Homo sapiens: one gene and its partner. The protein of the gene in region 1 interacts with the protein of each later gene in a pairwise test. Each region holds a gene or a part of one and is shown on either strand. Other genes may lie near its edges. The genes, in order: ARHGAP17 and DNMBP.

What was found.
Region 2: the proteins of ARHGAP17 (region 1) and DNMBP interact in a two-hybrid assay, tested with the Homo sapiens proteins (one study listed by BioGRID and IntAct).

Annotation. Positions count from the first base shown.
Region 1 is NC_000016.10:25,007,922-25,024,290, reverse strand, and holds the start of ARHGAP17 (rho GTPase-activating protein 17), read left to right. Parts: upstream 1-8,921; 5' UTR 8,922-9,029; coding exon 9,030-9,082; intron 9,083-9,412; exon of another isoform or gene 9,413-9,615; intron 9,616-9,662; exon of another isoform or gene 9,663-10,378; coding exon of another isoform or gene 10,379-10,428; intron 10,429-16,369. UniProt on the Homo sapiens protein: Rho GTPase-activating protein involved in the maintenance of tight junction by regulating the activity of CDC42, thereby playing a central role in apical polarity of epithelial cells.
Region 2 is NC_000010.11:100,002,006-100,018,294, reverse strand, and holds the start of DNMBP (dynamin-binding protein), read left to right. Parts: upstream 1-8,347; 5' UTR 8,348-8,457; intron 8,458-8,711; exon of another isoform or gene 8,712-12,058; intron 12,059-15,271; exon of another isoform or gene 15,272-15,353; intron 15,354-16,289. UniProt on the Homo sapiens protein: Plays a critical role as a guanine nucleotide exchange factor (GEF) for CDC42 in several intracellular processes associated with the actin and microtubule cytoskeleton.

The DNA of each region.
Region 1 (16,369 bases):
TGAGGTTGCCATAGGCTATGATGTGCCACTACACTCCAGTCTGGATGACAGAGACCGACCCTGTCTCTAAAAAAAGAAAGATGATGATGAAATCATTCACAGAATCTGGAAAGATGTCCAAGATGTAGTGAGATATATATATTTGTGTGTGTGTGTATATGTGTATATATGTGTATGTATGTGTATACATAATACATACATAATAAAATAAGAATAAATAGAAAGCAAATCAGAGAATACACTGACATATATGCAAATATGCACTTTTTTAATATGTATATATACGTATATATGTATGTGTGTGTGTGTGTATATATATATATATATATATATATATTTTTTTTTTTTTTTTTTTCCCCAGAAAGCAGCTGGCACAGTGGCTGATGCCTATAATCCCAGCACTTTGAGGGGGCCGAGGTGGGAGGATTGCTTGAGTTCAGAAGTATGAGACCAGCCTAGGCAACATAGGAAGACCTCATCTCTTCAAAAAAATAAAAAAATTAGCAGGGCGTGGTGGCACATGCCTGTGGTCCCATCTACTTGGGAGGTTGAGGTGGGAGGATTGCTTGGGCCTGCAATGTTGAGCCTGCGGTGAGCCATGATCGCGTCACCGCAATCTAGCCTGGGCGACACAGCAAAACTCTGTCTCAAAATAATAATGATGATGATAATAAAATAAGAATAAATAGAAAGCAAATCAGAGAATAATACACTGACATATATACAAATATGCACTTTTTTAAAAAAATCAAAAAAAAACCAAACAAACAAGTAAACAATAAGGTGGTTTTCTAGGCAATGGAAAGGAGAGTGAGTCGTAGCCAAAAAAGGGAACTTTAATTTTTAAAATGTTATACAACTTGTACTTTTGTGCTGTTCATCTTTTTTCTTACGTAAGGAGTATACACCTATGGTGTTTCTAATAGTTGATCCTTAACACTAATATATATATATTTTTTCTTTTTTTTTTGAGACATGGTCTTGCTCTGTTGCCCAGGCTGGCGTGCAGTGGCATGATCACAGCTCACTGCAGCCTCGACCTCCTGGACTCAAGGGATCCTCTGCCTCAGCCTCTGGAGTAGCTGGGACTACAGGCATATGTCACCACGCACAGCTAATTTTTTAAATTATTATTTGTAGAGACGAGATCTCACTATGTTGCCCAGGCTGGTCTTGAACTCCTAGGGTCAAGGAATCCTTCTGCCTCAGCCTCCCGAAGTGGTGCTGGGATTACAGGCGTGAGCCATCGTGCCTGGCCACAAATTAATATTTTAATTAACCAACATATACACAAATACCTGTTTCTTGCAAAAAAATAAAAGCATTATAAACCCTACCTGAAGTATCCTTTGACCACAACCTCCAATGTCACCAATACCCACCTTCACAAGAAGTAATCACAGTTTAAAGTTGGGTGAATACCTTTACAGCCCTTCAAAGACACTTAAAATCATTAAGAATATTTTTATTAAATTTAAAGAAGCTGAGTGCAATGGCTCACACCTGTAATCCCAGCACTTTGGGAGGCCAAGGTGGGCGGATCACTTGAGGCCAGGTGTTTGAGACCAGCCTGGCCAAAATGGCAAAACCTCATTTCTACTAAAAGTACAAAAATTAGCTGGGCATGGTGGTGGGCGCCTGTAATCCCAGCTACTCAGGAGGCTGAGGTGAGAGAATTGCTTGACCCTGGGAGGTGGAGGTTGCAGTGAGCTGAGATCTCGCCACTGCATGCCAGCCTGGGTGATAGAGTAAGACCCTGTCTCAAAAAAAAAAAAAAAAAAAAAATTAAAGAGAGCAAAACTGAGAACAAATAAATGACTATTTCCTAAAGGCTACTTAATGATAAAGTAGATACACAGCATGGCTTGATCTTTCCTAGTCTCTGAGAATCATCCATTGCTTTGACAGCCTTTCAGCCCAGCTCCTGCCCTCTGGCCAGGTGAAGTCAGCAGAGGTGCACATGTGGGCAAAACCTCTGCAGCAGCATTTTATAGAACATGCCCTGACCCACCCGGTCCTAGTCCAGTCAGCCTCATAAGTGACACAGCAGAGGAACAGGGATTGGCATCTGTTCCTCTGGGTATGAAAGCTGGTGTGTTTCCTAAACTTTGTTGTATATTTTTATTTATTTATTTGAGACGAAGTCTCGCTTTGTTGCCCAGGCTGGAGTGCAGTGGTACGATCTCCGCTCACTGCAACCTCTGCCTCCCAGGCTCAAGTGATTCTCCCACCTCAGCCTCCTGAGTAGCTGGGATTACAGACGCCCACCACCATGCCCACATAATTTTTTTTTTTTTTTCAAGTAGAGATGGGGTTTCAGCATGTTGGCCAGGCTGGTCTGGAAATCCTGACCTCAAGTGATCCGCCCACCTCAGCCTCCCAAAGTGCTGGGATTACAGGTGTGAGTCAATGCACCTGGCCCATATTCAGTTTTTCATTTAATGATTTCACCTGCAACCTTGCTTCCTGGCTTGCATTTTTCATTTGATTTGCAGAAGAAACTAGATTTACCTCCAATACTGTAACTTTTTTTTTGTTTGTTTTTTGAAACAGAGTCTCGCGCTGTCATCCAGGCTGGAATATATTGTCGTCATCATAGCTCACTGCAGTCTTGAACTCCTGGGCTTAAGCGATTCTGCCTCCTCACTTCCAAAGCAGCTGGGGCTACAGACGCATGCTACCATGCCCAGCTAATTTTTTAAATTTTGTATAGAGAGACAAGGTCTTCCTATGTTGCCTAGGCTGGTCTTGAACATCTGGGCTCAAGTGTGACCTGCCTGCCTCAGCCTCCCAAAGTGCTAGTATTATAGGCATGAGCCACCACACCTGGCATATTAATCTCTTGTAATGGCTGATATATACATATATATATACGTGTGTATATATATATATATATATATATATATACGCATATATATATATATATACGCATATATATATATATACGCGTGTATATATATATATATATATATATATATACGCGTATATATATATATATATATTTTGAGACGGAGTCTTCTCACTCTGTCATCCAGGCTGGAGTGCAGTGGCACGATCTCAGCTCACTGGAACCTCCGCCCCCCCGCCCCAGGTTCAAGTGGTTCTCCTGCCTCAGCCTCCTGAGTAGCTGGGACTACAGGTGCCTCCCACCACGCTTGGCTAATTTTTGTATTTTTCATAGAGATGGGCGTTTCACCATCTTGGCCAGGCTGGTCTTGAACTCCTGACCTCATGATCCACCCGCCTTGACCTCCCAAAGTGCTGGGATTACAGGCGTGAGCCACTGCACCTGGCCTGTTTTTTTTCCCCCCTGGATGTTTCTACTACTTTTTCATTGTCCTGTTTTAGTTTACCCATATGCATTTCTAAAATTGATATTCTCTCCTTCAGGTTTCTGACTGCCTGCCTCAAAAGCTCATTTTTATTCATTTATTAGTGAGATTTTCTCTCTAAGAATGTAATTTACTACTTTTGGCTTTGATGAAAAGGTTTTTTCCCCTAAGTAACCTGTCTAAGACATTTTGTTTCTCCTTCAGCTGCTGAATTTCTGAATGCATTTATATATGTTCTTTTCTTTCTAGCTCTGAGATGGCAGCAGTGGAATCAGACAGTCTCTGATTGTCTCCTTGGAGGGATCTAATGGTTGCATCTTTTTCCTGCAGTGATTTTCTTAGCTCTTCAATATCTTGGAGCAATTTAGAAGACTCACTCGACAGAGCAGACTCACTTGCGTGAGGAGATTCTGCGGCATGTGAAGAAAGTGCTTCTCTGGGGAGCTGGGGTAAAATATCCAGCTGTGGGAAGAAACTGTCCTTGCCGTGACAGAGCTGTCTGATGCTGTGCTGCGTGTGTGCTAACTCCTGCCCCAGGTTTTTGAGTTGAGTTTCATTCCCTTCGTTTTTTTGCATCAGGTCACTACAGTTCATCTGGAGTTTAAAATCATTATCACTGTCAGTTAAAAGCTTTGCTTGAAGGTGACAAAGTTCTTCTTGGAGTTGGGCTGCCCCATGCTGCACCCACTGTGGTCGCCAGCTGCTCTTTCCATTTTTTTCTTTCTTTCTTCCTTCCTTCCTTCCTTCCTTCCTTCCTTCCTTCCTTCCGTCCTTCCTTCCTTTCTTTATTTCTGTCTGTCTCTGTCTTTCTTTCTCTCTCTCTCTCTCTCTCTCTTTCTTTTTGAGATGGAGTTTCACTTTTGTCGCCCAGGCTTGAGTGCAATAGTGCGATCTCAGCTCACTGCAACCTCCGCCTCCCAGGTTCAAGCAATTCTCCTGCCTCAGCCTCCCAGGCACCCGCCACCACGCCCGGCTAATTTTTTTTTGTATTTTTAGTAGAGATGGGGTTTTGCCATATTGGCCAGGCTGGTCTCAAACTCCTGACCTCAGGTGATCCGCCCGCCTCGGCCTCCCAAAGGGCTGGGATTACAGGCATGAGCTACCACGCCCGGCCCACACTTCCATTTTCTTAACTGGCTGTTTTAATTTATTAGGTCCTTGTGGAAGCTCCTCAAACGGATTACCATTAACACCTCCAATCTCATGACCAGTGCTGGATGCTTGCAAAATTGTCACTAAAGTTTGACATTCCTGACTTAATGCATCTGTTTCAATGTCTTTTTCTAGAATGAGACATGATGACTTCTGAAAAGTGTCTTTAAATTTCTCCTGACCATTACTAGTGGACAGTTTTTTATTTTCCTCTTGCAGCTTATGGGGGCCTGTTTCATTACCAGCAATAATATCCATTGTTTGGTGATCTTCCTTTTTGAGACAGCTATTTTCTTGAGCTGCCTTATTCCAAACAGCCTGTATTTGTTCTCTGTCCAAAGCAGGTGCTTGCAGTTGCTGCTGAAGGTGAGCAACGCCCTGGGTGTCAGAGGCTGAAGCTGTTCTAGCCTGAAGGCCCTGCACCTCTGTATCTTCCTGACCAACCCCATTGATGGACAGCTGATCCATCTGTTTAAAGTCATATTATTTTTACTTATAAATTTATTCTCCAATTCTTTCTTTCCCCCTCTGGTCCTTGATTCAGGATTAATCTCCAATTCTTGCTCTTTCATTCCTTTCACTAATCTTTCAGTTTCAGATTTAAATAAACTATGCGTTTCACTTCTGCTTTCTATATTGGGACATTCAACTTCTGTTGCTTGAAAAATGGCTCAGAGTCTTTTAATGTCTTGTCCTGTTTCATGCAGCTGGGTTTTGATTCTTTTCCTATTGTGTTTTGCAAATTCCTAATTTCTTCACCTTTTACTGAAAAGAGCTGGGTGTATGTGATACTCATTTGCTTGTGCTGGTTTTAAAAATCATCCATTTCCTACTTTTTTCTCCTCTTTTAAAGACTGAAGCAGTTGCATCTTACTCTGTGTTTGCTCTTCAATTATGGTTATTTATTTATTTATTTTTGAGACAGAATCTTGCTCTGTCGGCCAGGCTGGAGTGTAGTGGCACAATCCTGGCTCACTGCAACCTGTGCCTCCTGGGTTCAAACAATTCTCCTGCCTCAGCCTCTTGAGTAGCTGGGATTACAGGCACCCACCACCACACCCGGCTAATTTTTGTATTTTTAGTGGAGACAAGGTTTTGCCATGTTGGCCAGGCTGGTCTCAAACTCCTGACCCCAGATGATCTACTCACCTCGGCCTCCCAAAGTGCTGGGATTACAGACGTGAGCCGCTGTGCCTGGCCTCTTCAGTCTTTTTTGTTTTTGTTTTTGTTTTTTTTGACGGATTCTTCTTCTGTTGCCCAGGCTGGAGTACAGTGGTGCGATCTTGGCTCACTGCAACCTCTACCTCCTGGGTTCAAGCGATTCTCCTGCCTCAGCCTCCAGAGTAGCTGGGACTACAGGCACTTCCACCGCACCTGGCTAATTTTATTTTTAGTAGAGACAGGGTTTCACCATGTTGGCCAGGCCGGTCTTGAACTCCTGGCCTCAAGTGATTTTGGCCTCCCAAAGTTCAAGTGATTTCTTGAACTCCTGGCCTCAAGTGATTTTGGCCTCCCAAAGTGCTGGGATTATAGGCATGAGTCACCATGCCCAACCTTCAAATATATTTTGATGATACTTTATTCCCTCCTCAAGATTACCTTTGATTATTTTCATTTGAAATATCTCCAATTCTAGTACCATAATAGTATCTACCATTCTAGGCTCAGCCACAGGGGCAGTTAGACTTTGTTGTCCTCTGAGTCATTTCAATTCTTCTATCAGATTTTTTTTTCTTTCATGGATGCAAGACATCTGTCTTTTTCCTCTATGGTTTGCTATGAAATTTCTTTCTTTCTTTCTTAAGGTTTTAGTATAATAATTCCTCTGGAAGCTCTGAACTTCCTTTAAGTTTTTTTTTAAAAAAATTGCTTTCTCTCTTATAAGTTGTGTCAATTGCTTCTGCTCTTCTCAACTAGATGACAAAATCAAATCAGTCTCTGATTGTCTTCTTGGAGGGATCTAATGGTTGCATCTTTTTCCTGCAGCGATTTTCTTAGCTCTTCAATCTCTTGGAGTAAATTTAGGAGCACTTTTTCTTTAGTTTCTTTATGGTCAGTGTCCATCTGTTTAATATTCTTTTTTTTTTTTTGAGACAGTAACCTTGTCACGTTGTCTCTGTCACCTTGACTGGACCACCCTGTCACCTAGGCTGGACCACCCTGCAGAGGCCAGATCTCAGCTCACTGCAACCTCTGCCTCCAAGGTTCAAGCGATTGTCTCGTCTCAGCTTCCCCAGCAGCTGGGATTACAGGCGCCCGCCACCACGCCTGACTAATTTTTGTATTTTTAGTAGAGACTGGGTTTCACCATGTTGGCCAGGCTGGTCTTGAACTCCTGACCTCAGGTGATCCACCTACCTCGACCTCCCAAAGTGCTGGGATTACAGGTGTGATGCATTGCACCCAGCCTCAATATTCTTTTTGAGTGCTGACATTTCAGAGTCTTTCTCGTGGCTGAGTTTAATTACACACTCTTGCTCTAGCTGTAAGGCAGAGCTCTCCAGGTTAGCTTCAGTGGACAATCTTTTCATGGTTTTCTCAGAGTTGTTTCTTCCAATAGCCTCTTTTCAGCTAGGGGTCTCACTCTGTCACCCAGACAAGAGTGCAATGGTGTGATAATAGCTCACTGCAGCCTCAAATTCCTGGGCTCAAATGATCCTGTTGCCTCAGCCTTTCAACTAGTTGGGAGTACAGGTGCATGCCACTGCTTCTGGCCTTTTTTTTTTTTTTAAATTTTTCATAGAGATGAGGTTTTAGTATGTTGTCCAGGCTAGTCTCATACTCCTGAGCTCAAGTGATCTTCCCATCTTGACCTCCCAAAGTGCTAGGATTACAGGTGTGAGCCACTGCACCTGGCCCCAGAAGATAATTTTTTATTTGTCTTTTACTCTATGTTCAAATTCTTCAATTTTTTGGTAGACTCTACTTTTTCAATTTGTAGAGCTTGCATGAATAGTGTTTTCCTTCTCTTGAAGTTTAGAGAGATCATGTACTGTAATTCCTGAGCCACCTTGCTGTAACAAATTTTCCAGTTCTTCAATCTTTTCTTCCTAATTGCTTAGATTTTCTTGATGCTTACAACTTATTTCCCTCAATTTCTGTTGATGAACATTCTGTAATACTGATAATTCAAGCTGATGGTCATCAGTATCCTGACTTCTTTTTTGTTTGAGCTCCTTGATGATATTAATATTTGGTGTTTGTAGTTTGTAGATTTCATTTTCATCAAAACTAGTTGTTCCTCCTATTTTATAAGTCTGAGCAATACATTTCCAATGGCCAACTGGAGACTCAAGTTTTAGAACTTCATTGGACTATCTGTTTATTTCTTGTTATGATGAAATTATGTCATAAAAACCCATGTAAGCGTCGTGGAACACTGAAGCATGATGGGTACCACATGGAATGGAGGGGATGCAGTGTGGATGGGAACCTCCGGCCTTCCCTGAATGTGCTGACTCCAGGGCTGGCTGCCGGTCCTGCAACCGATCCTGTAGTGCTTGCTTTCTTGTTTTAGGAAGGCTCATTTCTACCTCTTTCTGTTGTAATTGATGTCGATAACTTTTAGTTTGCTGCCCTATCTGAAGCTCTGATGCTTCCTAGGTCTCTCCTAGGTCACTAAAAAGATCTTGAAGTCCCTCATTCTTTGATATTAAGAATTCCAAACTGGCATCAGTCTCCTTTATCCCATAGTTAGGGAGCTCTTTCCTTTTTCTATGACATTTAGGAGCACATTTGAGATGTGGCTGATGAAAGAAGCCACATTGCTGCCCATCCAATGCAAAGAAGGGGCTTACCTGGAGCCAAGGCCACCAAACCAGGAAGACATGAGTGTGTGAGCACGTGTGTTAAGGAAAACACACATTGACTTTAATTTTTTTTTTTTTTTTTTTTTTCGAGACAGGGTCTCTCACTCTGTTGCCCAGGCTGGAGTGCAGTGGCGCCATCTCGGCTCACTGCAACCTCTGCCTTTCGGGTAAAAGCCGTTCTCCTGCTTCAGCCTCCTGAGTAGCTGGGATTACAGGCGTCCACCACCACGCCCAGCTAAATTTGTATTGTTAGTAGAGACAGGATTTCACCGTGTTGGCCAGGCTGCTCTCGAACTCCCGAGCTCAAGTGATCTGCCCCCTCGGCCTCCCAAAGTGCTGAGATTACAACGTTGAACCACTGCGCCCTGCTAGAAACAGCTTTTCATACGTTGAAATAAACGAGAGGGTGACCGGGCAGCGTTGGGGTCGGGGAGGCCAGGCGGAGGAGGCCTAGTGGTCTTCTCGCCCGGGGCCTTCTAGCTCTTCGCCCGTGTCAGGTAAGGCACTGTTAGCCTCGGCTCGGTTCGACTCGGCTCTACTCGGGCTCAGCTCGGCTCGGCCAGACCTAGAGGGCGGGCGGGCGGTGCCACTGGAAGTGACGAGGCGAGGGCGGGGCCGCCGGCCCGGGGAGCCACCGCCGCGCCGCCGTTTGGGCCGGGAAGCGATGTAGTAGCTGCCAGGCTGTCCCCCGCCCTGCCCGGCCCGAGCCCCGCGGGCCGCCGCCGCCACCGCCGCCATGAAGAAGCAGTTCAACCGCATGAAGCAGCTGGCTAACCAGACCGTGGGCAGGCGAGTGCGCCGGGCAGCACGGGGGTCGCACCGGGGCTGGGGGCGGAGGGCGGAGGGCGCGGGGGCGGGACGGCTCCTCCGCGGTCCGGCGGCTCTGAGCTGGGCCGCAGCCCCTGCCCGAGACCAGCGGGGCACGGGCCCGGGGGCTGCGCCGCGCTGAGGCCCGAGCGCCGCGCTCCAGGCGGCCCGCCTGTCTCTCAGCGCCGCCGGGCTCCCGAGACCTGCAGGGGAGGGCCGCCGCCTCCTCCGCCACACCGCGGGGTCCCCTGCCCATTGTCCCTGCCCCGGGAGCATCGCCCTCGGGGAGTAGACCCGGTCCTTCTCCTCCCTTCCCGGGGGCCGAGCCAGCTGGGATCGCTGCCCTGGGCTCAACAACGGTGACTTCTGTCCCTAACGCTGTGCCGAGCGCTGTGCTGTGGGGGGCGGCAGTCCCAGGCTTTCCCGGTGCTCCCGCTGTTTGCGAGTCCTTCTCCTGTAAGTGCATGGCGGCAAGAAATGGCTAGAGGGACATGAAAGCCAGCCGGATTTGCTCAGTGAGTTCAGAACGCCCTTTGAGGGAATTCGGAGGTGGTGCTGTCTCAAAACCAGGGCTCCTAGGAACTGGACTGCTGCTGCCAGTTCTTGACATTTAGAAATTAGGAATTGGCGGAAAAGGATTATGGAGACGCCTTGCGCCAATTTAAAAAGTCTCACCTTAGGTTTGGAAACAAATGCTTCTTTATCTTCCTTTGCTACGGTTGAAGTGCTTAACAAGAAACGTTATTGATTATTAAATGGCAGGCTAGACCAGAGTTGGTAGATCAGGTTGTCAGAACAAGAAATGATTTGTGGTTTTTGAGAGTTTCTGGAGGTGACTGTCATGTGCTGTATTATCTGGGGCTAATATTTCAAGGTCTTTCAGGGCAGCTGGCTGTACTGTACCGATTTAGTGTTTATTCAGCAAAGAGATACGAAAGTATGAATTTCTCACAGCTCTTCTTTTGATTTTCTGTTTTTAACAGTTAAGGGGAGTTTGGTTTGGCTGAAGCACGTGGGACACTTCTTTTTTTTGAGTGTATGAAAATACTTTTACTTCCTCTCGAGTTTTCTAAATTTGCTTTTTACTGTTTCATTTCCTCCATCTTTTTGCTTAGTTTCCTTGTTTAATTTTTTCGATTCCCTACCGTATTATTGTGGTGAGAATTAACTCTTATTTTCAGGGTTAATCGCTGCCCCTAAAGCCCAGACAAACCTACTTTTCTGTTATTTGCAGGAAAATTAAAGAAATAATGCTGAGAGGAAGGTAGACGTGTGGTAATGGCGGCTGATGTTTCAAGGAACAGTTTACAAGCACATGATAATTTCTTGTGAGTTTCGTACCCTTGTTAGTGTTCTGAGCAACGTGCATTGTGGAACTAGTATTTAGTAAGTGCCAAGATACATTTGTCAAATAGTCGTTTGGCTTGTTTTTACATTGTTCGTGACAGGTAAGGGACTTTCACTCTTTTTATACAAAGTTCTGAGACTTAAATCTACCAAGCTATTTAGGGTCTCTTTGACTCCTGGGTCATCTTAGAGGCTTCTCCCTTCACACTTTTTTTTTTTTTTGAGACAGGGTCTCCCTTTGTCACCCAAGCTGGGGTGCAGTGGTGCGATCTTGTCTCATTGCAGCCTTGACTTCCCTGGGCTCAAGCGACCCTCTCGCCTCAGCCACCTATGTGGTTGGAACTACAGGTGGGCACCACCACATCCGCTAATTTTTGTATTTTTTGTAGAGTGGGGATTTGCCATGTTGCCTAGGGTGGTCTCGAACTCCTGGCCTCAACTGATCTGCCTGCCTTGGCCTCCCAAAGTTCTGGGACTACAAGCGTGAGCCACCTTGCCTGGCACCTTCACATTTTAAAATTCCGGCCATGCTTGCCTACCTTCAGTTTCCACAGGAGGTCTTGCTTTCTTACCTGCTAGCATCTACTTGGAACTCCTGGAAGCCTCTCCCACCACACCTTTTCTCCAGGCACCTCTTGCTCATTCTTCAGCCTTCTGGGAAAGGTCCCTCTGCCTCTGAAAGGCCTTCTATGATGCTACAGCATAGATTGGATGCCTCTCCTGGGCGTTCTTGTAATCCTGTGTAGCACTTGCTTTTCTGTGCTGTGACTGCCTCTTGTGTGTGTTCTCCATCAGATAAATACCTTGAGAGTCCTTGCTGTGTCTCCTTTGATTCCCAGGGTCTGCTGTGGTTCCTACCCCATGGCCAGGGTGCAGTAGACATTGTTAATTCTGGTATTTGAGTTCTTACTAGATCGCCTTGGTGGTGTGGGCCCGAGTATGGGAAAACATGAAGTGGATAGAGTAGATGGTGATTCATGCTGGAGCTGTAATTCTGGGCCTGACCTTTGACTGTCTTTAAAAATCTTTATTGCTAGATGCCAGTGGAAGCTGAAGCTATTACAGAACTATTAAGGGTGTGGCAATTATGCACCCAAAGTCAGAACATCTGTTTTTAACTGGGAAACCTGTTGCTTCCTTGCTGTTGATTTCCTAGATGTGTGTGTGTATGTGTTTTCTGCTTAAGTAATCAGAAAGGACTAAGGAAGATAAACGGAGGCTGGAGAGTGCCTAGAATTGTTACTGCTTGGAAGTAGGTGGTTGGTTGGCCCCAGAATCAGGATTCTGGGTGTTTTTAGGTCAAGATGAAGGCTACAAAGCAAAGGGTTTTTTTGTTTTCGCCCCTGCGATCTAGGTGGAGAAGGAAGTTATATATGTGAATGTCATGCCCATCGTGTTTTGGTTTATCAATTTGTGGAATTCTAGGTGGTGTCTTGCAGTGAGATATTCTCCTCAGAAGGGAGACCTTTGAGTACTTTCACTGTAAGGTTCCAGGGGAGGGACTTGTAGAGAATTAGTAATGCCTGGAAGGAATGAGTTCGCATGATGCAGTTTGTTTACGATGGGTGGGTAAGTCTATTTGAGAAGACGGCCTGAAACTCACAGGGGCAAGGCTTATGAGGTGGTCTCATGGTGTGAGTGTCCCAAAGAAGAGAAGTAGGATGGTTCTTTTAGTCCACCTGCCTTTTGTTGATTCATGCATTCAACAGACACTTGTTGAGCCTACACTGTGTCCTGTTATCCAGGGTATTAAAGAATCAAAGGTGAATACGGGCATGGTTTCTGCCCTGAGGGAGCTCAGGAGATACGTGGAAGAGGTAGGCAGGCAAAAAATAATTATATACATGAGATAAGTGCTTAAGAGGGATGGCTAATGCACAGAGCAAAACCCAGCTGTCATTGGATTGAGGGAGGTAACAAAAGCTTCCCAGAGGAGAAAATCTGAGCACCTTTCTCTGCCTTCATTTTCAAGCCCTTATTTCAAATATCTCTTGTATTGATTAGGTCTCTTTTGGTTGTAAGAAAACCCAGTTCATAGCAAAGACGGGAATTGATTGGCTCATAAGTGACCAAAAGAGCCTCTAATAAGTAGTGTGGCTGCAGATTTGGCTTCTTCTGGGGGTTCCACTCTTTTTTTTTTTTTTTGAGACGGAGTCTGGCTCTGTCACCCAGGTTGGAGTGTAGTGGCGCGGCTCACTGCAGCCTCCACCTCCTAGGTTCAAGCAATTCTCCCGTCTCAGCCTCCCAAGTAGCTGGGACTACAGGCCTGTACCACCATGCCCGACTGATTTTTGTATTTTCAGTAGAGATGTGGTTTTGCCATGTTGGCCAGGCTGGTCTCAAACTCCTGCCCTCAGATGATCTGCCCACCTTGGCCTCCCAAAGTGCTGGGATTACAGGCATGAGCCACTGCGCCTGGCCTCGGTTCCACTCTTTAGGTAGGCACTGTGTCCACTGGGAGACTTCCACATCTTCCAAGTCTCAGAGGGAAAGAATACTCATCTCGCAGTCACTGTGGCCCGAGTCCCAGGATTGGCTCTGAATGCTTCTGGGTCACATGCCTTTCCCCAGAAATGGACTGGAGTCAGCGCACCCAAACCATATGGACTGAGAGTGGATGGTAATGGGTGGTAATCAGGCAAGAAATAAAGGTCATGGTGTGTCTTTTGTAGCCCTGCTAAAAAGAGAGATGTTTTGTTTCTTGAAAACCCTTAGATGCAGATCATCACCAATGGTGTTTTTGGGGAGATGATGTCTTGAGTAGAGGAAGGAGTACACTGGGATGAAGACCTTGAAGTTACAGAAGTATCAAGGAGAAAAAAAATTTGAGAGACAACTAGGAGAGCATAGTACTGAGGCTCTGATAGGGAGTGTCTCCTTGGGTGTTGATTTCTTCCCTGACTGAAGTTTCCCTTGGAGGTCTGAATGCTTTCACAGATAGTTGTTTTTTGAGAACCCAAGGTTGTAAACCCAAATGCCTAGAGGGCGAGGCCAGTAAAATGAATCAGTGCTTTGGGCCATGTGAAGGCCTCAGGGGACCTGGAGGACTGTGTCCCACCAAAGGGGCTGCTGTGGTAATGTAGGCCCAGTGTGGACCACCTGTGGAGTTTTCCTGAAATCTGCATTTTAACTAGCTGGCGTTTAATCCAAATTAAACTACGGGGACACTATATGCAGCTGAACAAAATATTTCTGTGGATCACCCAACTGCTTGTCTAGAAGGACTCAGAAATTGACAGTCCCTCTTTTTCATTTATTCCCCTGTACCTTACCCTGATGTTTTCAGTTCTTTGGATTTGTTGAAAAACAGCTCATCCTTTCTTTACTAAAATCTTGAAAAGGTCTGATAGTAACAGTCTATAACATTTCTATGGTGGTTTAGTTTACAAAGTGCTGTACTAAACCACCTGGCTTGGATTTCGTCTCCTGACAATGATAACTTCTCTCTGACAAAGATGGAAACCTGGCTGGGTGGGGTGGGGTGGCTCACGCCTGTAATCCTGACACTTTGAGAGCCCGAGGTAGGAGGATCACTTGAACCCAGGAATTTCAGACCAGCCTGAGCAACATGGTGAAACCCGGTCTTTACAAAAAATACAGAAAACTAGCCAGGAGTGGTGGTGTTTGCCTGTCTCAGCTGCTTGGGAGGCTGAGGTGGGAGGATCAACTGAGCCTGGAAAGTCGAGGCTGCAGTGAGCTGAGATCATGCCACTGCACTCCAGTCTGGGTGACAGAGCAAGACCCTGTCTCAAAAAAAAAAAGAAAAAAAAGAGGAAGAAACCTGACTTTCTAAGTTTGCACAGTTACTGAGTAGTGGCTGAGGCATGGCTTGGGTCCAGGGCCTCTTCCTGTGGTTCCCAAGTGCTTTTGAGTACAGGAACTGGGCTGCCTCTTCACCAGGGAAGGATTAGTGTTTATTAATGTTTATTAAACATCTTCTGTGCTTATGAAGCTGCTGGGCTTGGTGCTTTGCATACTTTTATTTCATTGCATTCTCATAGCCACCCTCTGAGGTGATGTTACTTATTTCTGATTTAATGATGAGGAAGCCAGAGATCAAAGAGGTCATCAAGCTCGCAAGAGACAGAGCCGTGGACCCAAACCCAGGTTTCTGATTCTGCAGCAGCTATAAATTCTGATCACAGAGATCTAATGACCTCTAGGAGTCTTCCACTCCTAGGAGGTATGTAGAATGGACCACTCACTAGGTAGTTGGATCCACTACCAGCAATGTGAATTCTCACACTGAGTCAAAATGTGTCTCTACCTACTGATCCCAGAACAGTCCCCTGCTGCCGAATTGAATGAATCTCATCTCTCTTCCCTGAGTCAGCCCTGCCTGTATTTGATGATCACAAACCTTATCCTTACGTTGCCAGCAGTAACATTCTGCATCCCTCACCCACTCCACTGTGTCCTTTTCCTCCCACTGATCTTCACTCTACCTTTCCTTCCCCCCACCCTTTTTTTTTTTTTTTTGACGGAGTCTCGCTCTGCCGCCCAGACTGGAGTGCAGTGGTACAATCTCGACTCACTGCAACCTCCACCTCCTGGGTTCAAGCGATTCTCCTTCCTCAGCCTCCCGAGTAGCTGGGCTTACAGGCATGAGCCACCAAGCCTGGCTAATTTTTGTATTTTTTAGTAGAGATGGAGTTTTGCCATGTTGGCCAGGCTGGTCTTGAACCCCTGACCTCAGGTGATCCACCCACCTTGGCCTCCCAAAGTGCTGGGGTTACAGGCGTGAGCCACCACGCCTGCCCACTCTGCCTTTTCTAGGGGAACTCTGAACAGTATTTCTGAGAAGGGATAGGTAATGTGTGCTTTGCTTCAATCTGAGTGGATTCCATCAACCTCTCCATAGAGCAGGGTGGAAAGAGGTCCTCTTGTCGTTGCAGCAGCTTCTCAATCTCATCTTTTATGGCCTTATTATGTAGTTTACATGTTAAGAAATCCAGAAGTATTTATAGTTGAGTGAAAATCCATTCTTTACTGGGGGGAAGAAATGAACTCTAAAACCATAAAAATGATGAACCAGTAGAAAATTTTCATCTGTAAATTTGAACCATAAAAGGATATGTTCATTTAGCATCATTTTTATATGTGTAAGCGGCATGTTACGCTATTATGGAATTGCCTTTGTAGCAGAGTGGACGAGGCAAAACCTTCCAAGTTTGATTATGGCCTAGGGCGCTGCAGTCAGTACGTGCACCGTGCATTTTTGTCAGACCACAGGATGTTTCACCTTTATCATTCTATTTCAGTTTCTCAAGTGTAGGTAGATGCTGTAGTAACTAGTGAAGTACAAATCCATGTAAAAATGTTAAACTCTCATCTGTTCGCTGTGTTTGTATTTTCTTAAAGGTAGGGATTAAAAGTGTAATAGGCCCACAGTCCCTTATCTGGAATCATTGGGCCAGATAAGTTTTAGAATTCAGAATTTTTCAGATTTTTCTAAAAGTAATAATATGCATATATTGTTGTTATGTAATACTTCCAGTGGGGTCTGGGACAAAATCCCATAATCAAACATTAGTATAGCAAAATATATATACATATATTCCCACTGAATGGATATGCATGAAGATTATGCATAGTTTAATATCAGTTCAGGTCAACTTTTATTGCCAAATAAGTTACAAAAAAAGATTTGTTTTTTAGAACTTTTTGGATTACAAAATGGTGATAGGGATTGTGGACTTGTCTTACTTTTAGTTATATACCTATTGAGAGTCTGTTAAATTTTTTTACTGTAAATAATATTTCCCATATTCCCAAAGGTTGGAAACCACAATCACATAAGCAGGGGTCACAAACCGAAGTGCCAGGTTGGGTAAAATAAATAAGTGAAATGGGAGGCGGGTATAGGACAGTAGGGAATGTGGGGACTGCAGTGAACTGGTGAATACATGTTCATTCAAAGGG
Region 2 (16,289 bases), on another chromosome or scaffold:
GATCACTTCTGGGTGCTGGAATGGAAATATGGGGGACTGCGAGTATAGATGAGTTGTTTCCCATTAAAACAAACAAACAAAAAATCCCTGGGAGATCAAGACAGGCAGATCACTTGAGGCCAGGAATTCGAGACCAGCTTGGCCAACATAAAACCCCGTCTCTACTAAAAATAGAAAAGTTAGCCGGGCATGGTGGCACATGCCTGCAATCCCAGCTACTTGGGAGGCTGAGGCAGGAGAATTGCTTGACCGTGGGAGGCAGAGGTTGCAGTGAGTGGAGATCATGCCACTGCACTCCAGCCTGGGCAACAGAGCGAGACTCCATCTCAAAAAGAAAAAAAACAGGAATGATGGTTGTGGACAAAACAACAAAAGAGCATTATAATTTTGTTGAATTTAAGCATCATTTTGATTTTACTGTGACTTTTTTCTGTTTTATTTATCTTTCATTGACATATAATTGTACATATTTATGGGGTACAATATATGTATACATTGTATAATTAGCAAATCAGAGTAATTAGCAAATCCATCATCTCAAATATTTATTACTTCTTTGTGGTGAAAACATTCAGAATGCTCTCTTTTAGTTAATTTGTTTTTATTGATTCTTATTTTTTATTTTTAAATGGAATTTCGCTCTTGTTGCCCAGGTTGGAGTGCAATGGCATGATCTTAGCTCACTGCAACCTCCGCCTCCTGGGTTCAAGCAATTCTCCTGCCTCAGCCTCCCAAGCAGCTGGGATTACAGGCATGCGCCACCACACCCGGCTAATTTTTTTGTATTTAGTAGAGACAGGTTTTCACCATGTTGGTCAGGCTGGTCTAGATCTCCCGATCTCAGGTGATCCACCCACCTCGGCCTTCCAAAGTGCTGGGATTACAGGCGTGCCCCACCATGCCTGGCCCTTATTTTATTTTATTTTTTCTGGAGATGGAATCTTACTCTGTTGCCCAGGCTGGAGTGCAGTGGCACGATCTCGGTTCACTGCAACCTCCGCCTCCCAGGTTCAAGCTATTCTCCTGCCTCAGCCTCCTGAGTAGCTGGGATTACAGGTGTGCAACACCATGCCCAAGTATATTTTGTATTTTTAGTAGAGACGGGGTTTCACCATGTTGGTCAGGCTGGTCTCAAACTCCTGACCTCAGGTGATCCCCCTACTTCGGCAAAGAAAGTCACCCCTTGGATCCATGTTCACCCCGCAGGAGCGGGGAGAAAAGGCATCTTTGACTTCCTTTTAGATTGTCCCATGTGAGCCCTTTGGGATGAAGTCCATCCCGGCACTAGATCAAAGGAATTGAGTGAGTTTCCTTAAATCCTTTCTGGAATCAGAGGAAGAATAAATAAATGAAGAAATAAAGTGACCACAATTTTGTTCTTTTTAAAAATACTCAAATATAGTATTTGAAACACACTGTAGTTTATAGAAGGCTTTTATTTTACAAGCCAATGATTTTTTTTTAATGTCAGACATTGGTACATTACTAATGTTGTAGCAAGGTTTGAGGGAGATACATCTCACACATCAGCCTTCCAAGTAGCTGGGATTACAGCCACACACCACCATGCCCGGCTAAGTTTTGTATTTTTAGTAGAGACAGGGTTTCAGCATGTTGGCCAGGCTGGTCTTGAACTCTTGGCCTCAAGCGATCCACCCCACCTCAGCCTCCCAGAGTGCTGGGATTACAGGTGTGAGACATTGCGTCCAGCCATGGTTTTTACTTCTGAGTGTGAAATAATTCTCTGTTTTCCCGTAAACCAATTCAAGCTTCTGCAAGTAGATAGGAAGAGGAGTCCCTAGGCATCAATATATCAATATATTAAGAACAGCCCTGAAGATAAACATGATACAGTCTTTTCTTCAGAATACAGAAGCTTTCTTATAGGGTCTGTTCTCTTCTAGGAAGAACAAAACAAGACCTGGTCTTACTCTTGCCAACCAGGGTCTATCCCTAAATGAAACCAAATGGCCTCTGTTGTCTTCTAGGAGTTGGCCTTGTCCTAGTTCAAGTCCACCAGACAGATGCCCTCTGTGAAAACTATCCTGACTTGGCCGGGTGTGGTGGCTCCGCCTGTAATCCCAGCACTTTGGGAGGCCGAGGCAAGTGGATCACCTGAGGTGAGGTCAGGAGTTCGAGAACAGCCTGGCCAACGAGGTGAATCCCCATCTCTACTAAAAATAGAAAAATTAAACGGTTGTGGTGGTGGGCGCCTGTAATCCCAGATACTTGGGAGGCTTAGGCAGGAGAATTGCTTGAACTCGGGAGGCGGAGGTTGCAGTGAGCCGAGATCCCGCCATTGCACTCCAGCCTGGGCAACAAGAGTGAAACTCCGTCTCAAAAAAAAAAAGAAAAGAAAACCATGCTGACTTCTCCTTTGCCTGTGAGATCTGATCACCAATCTTCCTCTGTCGATCTCTTTTCAACTTGAATTCTCACCGTTCTGAACCTTGGCCATGAGACTGCCAGGTGCATTGTGTCAACATTTTGATGAATAGTTGTTAGTATTTTCATGTGATGTCTGACATTTTAGGATGCAAACCTATGTCTTCCATGTTCTATCACTAGGTTGTTGGATCACATTTTCTTTTATAATAGAAATAAGCATATATTAACAGTATTTTATCTATACATCCCCTCCTCCCCACCACCCTGGAATTTGGTCCCCTGGCTATTCCAGGATGGACGGTTAGCTGACATAGCATGAGCAAGGCCAGCTTTGATTAGTTTCAGCAGCTCACTACTCTCATCTGCTTGCCATTGCAAACAACAGCTTATGGCTGTGACATGGTGCATTGTGGGGGGAAGCCAGAGGGAGTTGCCTTTGATATGGGGCCAAGTCATGCCAAACTGTTAGTTCATGGTGCAGCCCCTCATAACCGTGATAGTACTTACGGTATATCAAAGGATGACACACCCAAATAGTTTTAATCAATTAGATGAATCAAAATATGAATTGAGCCATTCTGTGTTTTGGTTTATTGAGGATTATTCAAGGGGAAAAACAATGTACTTTTTAGTTTTAATATGACATATACAGATATAATCCTTATTGTTAACAAGGCAGTTCCACACACATTTATCTCGTTTGGTTATTTTCATTTCAGTCCCTTCATTTGGGGATATTTTAATCACGTCTCAATACATCAACTTATCACAAAAATCAATCTCTTTACCATGGCTCACCAAACCAGAAATGACCTACATACTGTTTGTTAGATAGTTATTATTTGGCCGTGTGCGGTGGCTCATGCTTGTAATCCCAGCACTTTGGGAGGCCGAGGAGGGTGGATCACCTGAGGTCAGGAGTTCAAGACCAGTCTGACCAACATGATGCAACCCCATCTCTACTAAAAATACAAAAATTAACCGGTTGTGGTGGCGCATGCCTGTAGTCCCAGCTACTTGGGAGGCTGAGGCAGGAAAATCAGTTGAACCTGGGAGGCAGAGGTTGCAGTGAACCAAGATTGCACGCACTACTGCACTCCGGCCTGGGCGACAGAGCGAGACTGCATCTCAAAAAAAAAAAAAGAAAAAAAAAGATAGTTATTATTATTATTATTAAGAGACAGGGTCTTGCTATGTTGCCCAGGCTGGAGTGCAGTGGCTATTCACAGGCACAATCATAATGTGCTGCAATCTTGAACTTCTGGGCTCAAGTGAGCCTCTCACCTCACCCTCCAAAGTAGCTGGGATTACAGATGCGTGACACTGCACCTGGCCCTGTTTGTTTTCTAATCTGATCTCATAAAACTGCCTCCTTTGTTCACATGGCTTATTTTGTGTTTCCGAAACGTACTAGATGGCTTTCTACTTCAAGATTTTGCACCTGCAGTTTCTCCTGCCTGAAGAGCTCTTTACATGGCTGATTCTTTCTCTCTTTTTTTGAGATGGGGTTTCACTCTGTCACACAGGCTGGAGTGCAGTGGTGCCATCATGGCTCACTGCAGATCGTGGGACTACAGGCTTGAGCCACCATGTCCGGCTTGATTCTTTCTCATTATTCAAGTTTCAGGTAAATGTTACATCCCCAGAGGGGATTTCCCCAACTATCTCTATATTCAGAGAAGGTTCCCATCCCTCACTTTGGCCTTTATCAGCCTAGATTCCTTATCTAAACCACATGACATAGAAGCTGTGTGGAGTGAATTGTCCTCTTAGTTCTTTCAAGGACTGAGTATGACTTGAACTGTTCTGGTTGCTGTTGGGGTCAGGTGAACTTCCTCTTCGCCCTCTGAAGTTTTGCTGAAAAATCAGGTCACAAAAGGCAGATTAATTGGCATATGCATCTGTTTGACAATAGTTTTATGTGACACGGAAGACCAACCCCCCAATGGGGTGCAGAAGCTTATGTACCATCTTGAGGCTACAGAAAAAATGGTGACTTGGATGCTGGCAAAACAGGTTATGGGAGGGTGAAGAAGAGGAATTCTATTGAGGGCAATAAATGATTACTAGGGAGAATTCAATGAACTTGAGGAACTTCCAATGGTCTGGGACAAAGTCTGTTGGGCCTGCAGACCAGACAGTGGTTTGTGACAAAAGTCTGTCCAGGTTTATTGACAGACTTTGGTCTTCTTTCTTGCAATGTGGGTTCAGTTAATTAAAACTCAGGAAAGAGATCAGAGATAATTGTTTTTCTTTGGTAGGTCAGGACTTTGGACAGATAAGGAAACTTCAGAGAATACTATGCTTTGGGAGAGACAGTGAAGAGGGGCAGGTGGGAGGAGGTTGAGAGAGACCTTGAGACTGCTTTTTCAGCTCAACATGTACAAAGCACCCTATTTTAGGGTATTGGTTTCTAAGCCCCAACATTGCATAGGAGAGAAGTTAACTCATTACATACAACAAATGCCTAGGGCACTAGGCTTTAATTCTCTGTGATCTAATCTATCGCATCAGTTGGTTTGTTTCCTTCATAACACTCAACTACACCCCATGATTGTCTGGATTATCATTTGTTTATTTCTTTATTGTCTGTTACCCTACTCTAGAATGTGAGCTCCATGAAGGCAAGGATCTTGTCTGTGTTGGTCAGCCTGAATGCCAAACACCTAGCACAATGCCTGTTACATCACAAATGTACAGTAAGAATTCATTGATAAATGAAAAGTATAAAACCACCTTTGCAAAATTTTAACTGAGGAACTTATGAAGTGAAAGAAAGCAGACCTAACTGACCCCATCTTGCTTCTAACCTTTAAGTTGTCCTCGTTCATTCCTGGGCATAGGCTGAACTAACTTTGGGAAAGAATTCAGTTCATGACTCTGAAACAAAATTGATAATAGCCCTTTGCCAAAAAGACCCCCTTCTTGCCTAGGGACCAGTCTGCCTTTGCAGGACTAACAAATTAGCTACAAGATTAGAAATTACAGTTTAAGGCCGGGAGTGGTGGCTCACACCTGTAATCCCAGAACTTTGGGAGACTGAGGTGGATGGATCACTTGAGGCCAGGAGTTTGAGACCAGCCTGGCCAACAATGTGAAACCTCATCTCTACTAAAAATACAAAAATTAGCTGGACGTGGTGGTGCATGCTTGTAATTTCAGCTACTAGGGAGGCTGAGGCACGAGAATCGCTTCAACTCGGGAGGTGGAGGTTGCAGTGAGCTGAGATTGCACCCCTGCACTCCAGCCTGGGCGGTAGACTAAGACTCCGTCTCAAAAAAAAAAAAAAAAAAAAAAATTACAGTTTAGGGGTCATGCAGCCTCTGACTCCAAGAGCCTGAACCTCCCAAATTGCTCCTGGAATAACATCACTATTTCAAAACCTAAGATCAGTATTTGAGATATTTTGCAGACCCTGCAGTTGATGGATCTGCTGACACCATCCAGACCGGTAATCTGGCTCAACCAGTTCTGCATTGCACCCAGGAGCAGAAAACAGCAAGAAAACCTCATTTTGACCCCCTATGTTTCCATCTCCAACCTGACCAATCAGCACTCCCCACTTCTCAAGACCCCACCAGCCAAATTATCTTTAAAAACTCCACAAGGTCAGGAGATGGAGACAATCCTGGCTAACACGGTGATAGTCCGTTTCTACTACAAAAATACAAAAAAAAAATTAGCCAGGCGTGGTGGCGGGCGCCTGCAGTACCAGCTACTCGGGAGGCTGAGGCAGGAGAATGGCGGGAACCCAGAAGGCGGAGCTTGCAATGAGCCGAGATCACGCCGCTGCACTCAAGCCTGGGAGACGGAGCGAGACTCCGTCTCAAAAAAACAAACAAACAAAAAACTCCGATCCCCAGGCTGGGCGCAGTGGTTCATGCCTGTAATCCCAGTACTTTGGGAGGCCGAGGAGGGTGGATCACCTGAGGTCAGGAGTTCAAGCCCAGCCTGACCAACGTGGCGAAAAAAATAAATAAAACGAAATGCTTGATTTTTCATCTGAATTTCATATGGCATACTTGACTCCAAACAACTTTAGAAAGCTACATCCACAGAAAACAAAATTGTAGGAAACTGAATAATAAGTTATTTTTATTTTGGCTAATAACATTATCCAAAAATAAAGACAATAGATTTGCAATGTTAATTACTTTCTTGAGGAAAGAAAAGTCACTTGTTTTAAAATATTTATTTATTTATTTATTTATTTATTTATTTGAGACGGAGTCTCGCTGTGTCACCACGCTGGAGTGCAGTGGCGCGATCTCAGCTCACTGCAACCTCTACCTCCCGGGTTCAAGCGATTCTCCTGCCTCAGCCTCCCGAGTAGCTGGGACTACAGGCACCCACCACCATGACCAGCTAATTTTTTATTTTTAGTAGAGACAGGGTTTCACCATGTTGACCAGGATGGTCTCGTTCTCTTGACCTCGTGATCCGCCGAAAAGTCACAGTTTTACAGGCAAATGAAGCATTGCTAAGAATTTTAAAGACTCTCCGAACGTTGATATTTTACTACAAAATGTTCTCTTTACAGTGTTAACATGCTTCAAAAAGCAAAGGAAAAAAAAACAGTATGGTGGCTTCTCAAAAAATTAAACACAGAATTACCACATGATCCAGCAATTCTTCTGGATATATACCCAAAAGAATTGAAAGTAGGGACTCAGATATTTGTACACCCATGTTCATTGCAGCATTATTCACCATAGCCTAAAGGTACAAACAACCCAAATGTCCACAGAAAGATGGGATAAACCAAAGATGTTATATACGTACAATTGAGTATTATTCAGCCTTCAAAAGGAAGGATATTCTAACGCATGCTACAACATGGGTGAGCCTTGAAGACATTATGCTAGGTGAAAGAAGCCACTCACAAAAGGACAATATTGTATGATCCCACTTATATGAGGTATCCAGAGTAATCATAGAGACAGAAAGTAGAATGATGGTTACCAGGGGCTGGAGAATGAGGAGTTAGTGTTTAATGGGTACAGTTTCAGTTTGGGAAGATGAAAAAGTTCTGGAGCTGGATGGTGGTGATGGTTGCAGAACAATGTCAATGTACTTAATGCCACTGAACTGTACACTTAAAAAGGATTAAAATGGTAAATTTCATGTGATATATATTTAACCACAAGTTTTTAAAAAGCAAAGGGAAGGAGAAACATATACAGCATGGGATGAGATTTGTGAAATATTTATTTTTGTTGTGCATGCACAGTCATAGACTCGCCGCCTTCTTCAGAATCCTCTAGGTAGATTCCAGAAACGTGAGGCGCAGCAATTCCAGCAACATAGCCAAGCTGTGTAACTTCGTGGTCTTTAAACAAACAACGGGAATACTGCGGGGATTCAGAAACTGAGTCGGAGGAGGAGTTCTGACAGCCCTGCCCAGTTCTTGCTTCTGTCATTTCTTGCTCTCAAATTCTCAAAGATGTCCTGAGAGACTTTCCTCAGAAAAAAATGGGACAGATAGAGGCGAACCCCAGCGAGTATTGTGTGGCATAATAAGGGAAACTGCCTCGGGGTAGCAAAGAGGACAGCATCACACGCAGACAGGAATCGACTTGGACTTCTCTGAATGGAATTTTGACTTTTTTCTAGGTTGGAGGGTGGTGTCGGGAGTGGGGGAACAGCAAGAGTGGAGGAACTTGTCCGCAGCCGGGGCTGCACGTAGGACTGCGTGAGGCCGAGGCCCGACGAGCCGTGTCGGCGCGCTGCGGCGGGGGCGGGCCCCCGTGCCTCAGTTTCCCCGGTGGCCGTTCTGGGAGCGACGCCCCTCTGACGTCGCGAGGCGAGCAGGGCCGGGCCGGCCGCCAGGGGGCGCGAGCGCGGGGCGGGCGCCGGAGAGGTGGGCGCGCGGGCAGCGGAGCTTGGCGCCCCCGGGGCCGCGCGGACCGCGCCGGCAGAGGCGGAAGCCTGAGCGGGAGGCGGGGCGGCGCGCTGACTCACACGGGATCGACCCGCCCGCCGCTTCCAGGGGCGGAGGTGACAGCGGGCTGGGGACTGGCGGCTGCAACTGCCTGCCGCGCCGAGGGACCGCCGGGCGGCGGAAAGCAGGTCAGAGGCCGGGCCAGGCCGGAGCCGGGCGGGGGCCGGGCGGGGAGCGGGGGTCGCGGTCCGGGGCCGCGGGCGGAGGGGACCCGCACCCCGAGAGACGCGCCGCGCCGCGCCGCGCGGCTAGGCCTGTATCGGCCCTTTCCCAGCGGCGGCGCTGTGCTGCGCTCTGTGGGCCAGGAGCCCGCGAGGGACAGTGGGGCGCAGCGGGCCCCCTCGCACTCCTGTAGTCCCCGGGAGTTGGAGGGGTGGTCAGAGCAATGCGAACGTGGGCTTTTCAAGCGGTGTCAAGCCCAGGGCTCTTTCTCTGCACCGCCCTGCCACTCCGGCAATGAGGCGGAATTTTGAGAGCTGGAAAAAGAATTCTGCGTTAGTCCACCCCGCTGATTTTACAGATGTTCGGAGCCTTACGGCATAGGAGGCCGTGATTCTGTGTCAGGGAGACAGGGACAGATGGCTTCCGAAGCAAGGGTTAGACCTGTTCAGCTGGAGATGCAGCTTTGGTCATGGTGGAGTTTTGCAGAAACCCGCGGACACCCGCGTTCCTGCTGCAGGCACAGATGTCCACCGGGCATCTGTGTCTCAAAGGGTGGTGATGCTGTCACTTTAGTAAAGGAATATTGAGGTTACCAAACAGGCCGGGGCCTGATGCAGATGAGGAGTATAGACTTAAATTTTAAGTGCAAAAACAACTTTAAATGCAGTCTCATTATTACTGCCTGTCTCATTTGTACTGTAATGAAGGGTGAATATTTTTGGCACTCACTTATTCTGGAATATGGGTAACTTGCCTTTAGGTCTGTTTTATAGTAATTCTTTTACACAAACATGAAGATCTTGTATTAAAACACTTTCATAACTAATGATGCTGTAGTATGTGGCAGGCGAGTGGTAACGCTAATATTTAGGGTTTGAGCATAGTCTAGCTCTGCTTGTTTACATAGCTGAGTTAAACGGATGAGCAGGACTGATTAATCTGTAGTAGTTTTTGCAAGACTGAAGTACCTGACAGCATTCGGGGATCATTTCTCAGTTGGTGTTCCGTTTATTACTTTCACAGCATGAATACCGACACGGTGATCAGCAAGTTAGTTTATCCTCTACCCATTTTTCTCTAAAATATTGAATTAAAGGATCTCTAAGGTCCTCTTCTGTCTCGAGTTCTCCGATTTTACATGTTAACTTGAAACACGTCACTCATTGTGATAATAAAAATGTTTTAAGAAGAAAAGATTTTTAGAATTCTGCATAATGGGGCATAGCGAATCTTCAAATTCATTATTCTCAGCTCTCTCAGTCACTTTATCAGGGTTGGGCTAAAATAAGTGAAAAGTGACTTTTCAAATTGCAGATACTTACGTGTTAAATTCACTTAAATTCAGAGGCTGCAATGGAGTGATTTCTGGAGGGTGGAGAGTAGCTCAAGTCTGGCTTGGGAACGGGGTTCGTGCAGTGCACTGATAACTTTTGCAATAAGCCAAGAACAGTCTGACTCAGAGAATGTGATAAATTGACTTTTATACAGTGTTCATATTGTGTATTTTTTGGCTGAGATAATAATAATCTTCATAAACGATCTGTTTAAATATGCACCAGTTATTTATTTGTCTTGCAGCCCCAAGGCAGGGCATTTCCCTCAACGTTCCATCAATCTCTTCCTCTTTTCTGGCTCCTGACTTCAGGTGATCCGCCTGCCTCAGCCTCCCAAAATGCTGGGATTACAGGCGTGAGCCACCGAGCCTGGCTTTTGGCTTATTTTCTAGGTTTAGTATTCTGTTGTTTCTAGAGTCAGCTAATGGATTACCTACAACATGGTATTATTACGAGATTATCTCCTGTGAAATTCTCGAATGTGCTTGATCATCTGCCAAAGCATCCTTAGAATTCATTCAGAATACTTCTGGAAAGTTTTGCAACACCAATTCAATTAATATGAAATAGTTTCTTATTATACACACTCTGGAAAACATCTGAATAAGCTAATTTTCAAGATTGGTTAACTTAGTCTTGTTGGTCAGGAGTTAATTATGAGTTATTAGTTTCTTGCCTGGAAAGGCAGAAAGTTCTTAAGTAGCAGCAGTAAAATGAGCTCTTTAATGAAAGAGCCGTTAAACCAAGATGTTAACTTTTAGTTGTGTTCTTTATCCTCCCTGCTATGAAAGGCAGCTGTGGGAGGTGAAATAGAGTAGCTAAAATGTATTATTTCATTTTTAGATTTCTAGATCTTTTCTTCTGACTGAAGGACGTGACCACCAAGAATTGAACCAGCACTTGAGGGCAGGCACATAGGGCATTGTGTGAGGAGTCTGAAGGCATGGCTTTTGGTCCTTACTTGTTTATTCACTGAACACATTCTCACTGAGCACCTGTGTGTGCTGAGAGGGTGGGCACCTGTGTGTGCCGGGAGGAGGAACACCTGTATGTGCTTGTGGGGGGCACCTGTGTGTGCCGGGGTCGTGGTAGCACTTGTGTATGCTGTGGGTGCTGGGAGGGGGAACCAGTTTGAACAAAACAGACTAAGCCCTCGTGGAACAGACACATTCTAATTGGGTGGAAACAGACAAATATGTGAATGAATAGGTCAAAGGATCATAATGCTGTGGAGAACTTTAGAGTCAGGAAAGGGTAAGAGTGTGTGTGTGTGTATGTATATGTGTGGTAGGGGATTTACTTTTTATATAGAGGGGTCAAATAAAGCCTCTACTGAGATAACTTTTTTTTTTTTGGAGACAGAGTCTTGCTCTGTCACCCAGGCTGGAGTGCAGTGGCGTGATCACAGCTCACTGTAGCCTCAACCTCCTGGGCTCAAGTGATCCTCCCATCTCAGCCTCCCGAGTAAGCTGGGACTGCAGGCTTATATCACCACGCTGGGCCAATGTTTGTATTTTTAGTAGACGCGGGGTTTCACTATGTCGCTCAGGCTGGTCTGGAACTCCTGGCCTCAAGCGATCCACCCACCTTGGCCTCCCAAAGTGCTGGGATTACAGGCATGGGCCACCACACCTGGCCTAACTCATGGTGGGAGACTGGAAGGAAATGAGGAAGTGAGCAGGAGGCAGTGGGATGAGCATGTTCCAAACCCTGGTGCAGGAGCATGCTTGGCATGTTAGGGGTGGCAAGGTCATGGTGGCCAGTCAGTGTGGATGTGGGTTGGGGGGAGGTGGCAGCAGATGAGAGGGGGTGGGAGTGGGGAGGACACATCAGTGTAGGTCATTGTAAGGATTTTGGCCTTTACACTGAGTGAGGGGGAAGCCGTTGGAGAGCTTTGAACAGTGAAGTTGATGATGACTTATGTTTTAAAAGGATAACTGGCTGCTGGGTTGAGAATAGACAGGAAGAGGACAAGGGCTGAGTCAGGGAGACCTTTTCAAGCTAGAGCTGTGTGACTCACACCATAATTCTTCCCTGAGTCTTCGTTTCCTCATCTGTAAAATAACTGGGCCCTCTCTAGCTCAAGAATTTTAAGTTTTCAAGTAGTGCAGGGTATTATTTCTACAGGGAGGCAAGAGGATTGCGTGGGAAGAGGTTCTGAAAGTAAATCGCTTCAGATGACCTGAAAACTTGACACCAACCTGCCTGTAGCTGAATCATCCCAAATCAAGAGGTAATCAGGTCTTTTTCAGTCAGATTGTCAGGTCATGAGAACAAAAACACTGTTTCGTAAATATTCTCTGCTCATCCCTTTTGTACTTTGCTGATCCCTGAATTTTCCCTTCCTGATTGAAAAAGGATGAAAAGCTGTTACTCATCAACAGAACTGGCAACCAGAGTAGCTTTTGTTGTTTGGAAAATTGGGAACTTTGGGGAAGGAAACAATTCTGTGTTTATCGTAGGTCATAAGAGTTTTTCTTTTATAACACGCAAGGAATCTAAAAGATTGGTTTTGTTGTAGAATTCCCTTGTCCCATTCATCTCATGTCTCACAGGTGTTCATTCTTAATGCATTGCATGTGCTTCCTTTTGTTTATGTAGGAGCTTGCAAAGTGGGAATGTTTGTTTTATGTGTATGTATCTTGATTTATAATGCTGTAATTCATTTTCCTTTATGTAGTTTGGTTTTTTTTTTTTTTTTTTTTGGAGACTTTTGAGACAAGAGTCTCACTCTGTTGCCCAGGCTGGAGTACAGTGGCGAGATCTCGGCTCACTGCAGCCTCCGCCTCCCGGGTTCAAGCCATTTCCTGCCTCAGCCTCTTGAGTAGCTGGAATTACAGTCATGCGCCACCACGCCCAGCTAATTTTTTTGTATTTTAGTAGAGACGGGGTTTCACCATGTTGGCCAGGCTGGTCTCGAACTCCTGACCTCAGGTGATCCGCCTGCCTTGGCCTCCCAAAGTACTGGGATTACAGGTATGAACCACCATGCCAGGTCTCTGAGTAGTGTTTTTAAGATCCATCCATATTGTTATGTGTCTAATTCTCTGCTTTGGAATGCTGCATTTATACCCCATGCTGTTTGCATCCATTGGTTTTGCTTTATCTGCTCTCTGTGTAGTGAGTGGTTACTCAAGTTGTTCCTACCCCCTAACACCATAAATATTGCTGCAGTGAACATCTTCCTACATGTCTCCTTACAAAGCTGTATAATATTTCTGTGGAATTGCTGGATTATAGGCTTGCAGAGACTGAATTTGATTAAATAGTGCCAGATGCCTCTCCACAGTGGCTGCCCCAGTCTCTGTGCCTCTGGAAGTATTAATATTTGAGGACTCCTGTATCCTCATGTCCCACCAGCACTCGCCTCTTTCCAGCTATCCATGGTTTTCAATCTCGTAAGCACAAAGTGATATCTTGTCGTTTTAATTTATATTTCTTTGATGACTAGAGATTTTGAGTATCTCTTATACAGATAGCTTCCTCTGTAAATTGCTTATTCATGTCTTTGGCATTTTCTGTTGGAGTTGATATCTATTTTGTTGCTGTTGACTTGCAGAAATGATTTTATAATATAGGTATTTATTCCCTGTTATGTTTAGACTTTGCAGATGTCTTCTCATTTGGGCATCTTGACATCTGTTGATCAAATCTTCTCATTTAGTTCTCGTTTTGTCTTTGCCATCCTTTGATCAAGAAATATTTTTAATTTTGATGTAATCAAATAGATAAATTCTTTGACTTGCGGTTTATGTTTTTGGAGTTTTGTTTAAGGAACTCTTCCTGAACCCTAGGTCATGTCTGTGACTTTCATCTCTCTAGGGCCCGCATTTTCATGTGTTAGATAGGAATCCAGCCCTATTTTTCTCCATTTAATGACCCAGTTTTTCTAATAACATGTCAACAAAATCCATGCTTTCCTCTATGAAATTATGGTATCTCTTTCTCATTTGTGGTTTCCATGGATACACTTGTCTGGCCCTAAGCATTTATTTTGTTCCATTAGTCTGTCAGTTCTTACTTCATTTTTTTAATTGCTCTAATTTTATTACAGTGACTTTGTAGTATGTCCTAATGACTGGCACAGCAAGCCATTCATCTTAAAGTTTATTTAGCTCTTCCTGGACCAAAATTTATTTTTTCCATATAAAATTTGGAATAAGTTTACCAGGCTACCCAAACATTATATATACATATATATTTATATATATATATTTTTTCTTTTGAGACCTTGTGTCACTCTGTTACCCAGGCTGGAGTGCAGTGGCACCATCACGGCTCACTGCAGCCTCAACCTCCCAGGCTCAAGTGATCCTCCCATTCTAGCCTCCCAAGTAGCTGAGACCACAGGCATGTGCCACCATCCCTGGCTAATTTTTCTTTTTTTTTTTTGTAATTTTTTTAGAGATAGGGACGCCCTTTGTTGTCCAGGCCGGTCTTGAACTCCCGGGCTCCAGCAATCTTCCTGCCTTGGCCTCCCAAAGTGCTTGGATTACAGGCATGAGCCACTGTGCCTGGCCAAAAAATTATATTTTTGAGGAATTTTTATTGGAGTTTATTGAGTTTATAAATTATTTGAGGAGGGTTAACATCTTATTTTATTTATTTATTTATTTTTTATGTGCCATGTTGCTTTTTTATTTTTTATTTTTCTTTTTAAGACAGGGTCTCCCTCTGTTGCCCAGGCTGGAGTACAGTGGTGCGATGATAGCTCACTGCAGCCACCACACCCAGCTAAATATTTTTATAAGTTTTTTGTTGTTGTTGTTGTTGTTTTAATAGAGATGAGGTCTCACTCTGTTGCCCTGGCTGGGCCCTGGCCAGTAACTCCTGGCCTCAAATGGTCTTCCCACCTCAAAGTGTGCTGGGATTACAAGTGTGAGCCACTGAAATAGTAACTCATTCCATCCAAGAGCATATAATGTGTCTTTCCGTTTATTCAGCTCATTTTTCTGACATTTTTATAATTTTGGAAATAATTTAAAGCTAACAGAAGAGTGCTAAGAGTATGTTTTCTTTGTGTGCTTTTTCCCCTGACCCCTTTAATTGTAGACATCATGTCCCTTTAATCTCTAAATACATGCTTCATCAGTTCTTTTTGTTTGTTTGTTTGTTTTTCTTTTGGAATGGAGTCTCGCTCTGTCGCCCAGGCTGGAGTGCAGTGGCTCGATCTCTGCTCACTGTAACCTCCGCCTCCCAGGTTCAAGCAATTCTCCTGCCTCAGCCTCCTGAGTAGCTGGGGCTACCGGTGTGTGCCACCACGCCTGGCTAATTTTTTTGTATTTTTGGTAAAGATGGGGTTTTACCATGATAGCCAGGATGGTCTCAATGTGACCTTGTGATCCACGTGCCTTGGCCTCCCAAAGTGCTGGGATTACAGGCCTGAGCCACCGTGCCCAGCCCTTTCCCATTCTTATACTTCTTATTCATTTTTCTTTCCTTACAGCATTGGCCAGGACTACTAGAACTGTGTCAAAACAGCTGCTACACTAACGGGCATCTTTGTCTTGTTCTCAGTCTTAAAAAGAGTGAGTCTAAAGATTTCCTATTTCATATAATGTTTGTTTTAGGTTTTGTATGTTACCTTTATCAAGTTTTAAGGTATTACCCTCAATCCTAGTTTACTGAGAGTTTTCATCATAAATAGGTATTAAGCCTTACCAAGTACTTTTTCAGGATCTGTCCTTGAGGAAATAAGATGGCATCAGGAAGGCTGTATACCAAAATCCTAACCCTATGCTGACTTTGTTTCAAGCAGAAGATATTTATTAACCCTACATATATAATTTGTGGAAAGCATCTCAAGATTCCAATACAAGTTTATTTCACCATTAGGTCAGCTTTTTCCTCCTGGCATTACGAGTCAGAATTTAAATAGCTGATGTGAAAAATGAGAGAAAGAGCCATACTCAGGATGATAAGTTTTGTTGTCAGCATGATTGTAAATATAAGATATGTAAAATTATAGTTTCCTTACTCTGTGGATCGGTCTTTACTTCAGGCATAAATCTTACTAAATTATATCTCAAGAAATATTGAGGTGGCTCGTCAGTAGAGCCATAGATAGCTGTTTAGCAGCACTAACTGCTAGGGTGTTGGGCAGTGAATTCTCATGGCCAGCTCTTCTCTCTCTTTCTTTTTCTTTCTTTTTAGACTAGCCATTTTTTTTCCTAATTGTGAAATTATACCTCTTTATTACAGAGCATCTGTAAAATATAGAAAAGCGAATCTATAATCCTGCCTTTTAGCACCAACCCCTGCTAAAACGTTGGTTATTTCTCTGTCTCTGTTTTTTATTGGGGTGGGGGAGCATGTTGAGGAGGAGAGGGCACTTAACATTGCACTATATCATTTTCTATCACCCCTCCTTTTTCAGGGCTAGATCATTAACTCATGTTCATTTTGCTTTGATTGGCTCTCTGGGGAAAAATCGATAGAAAACTTACAATTAACTTGTAGCAGTG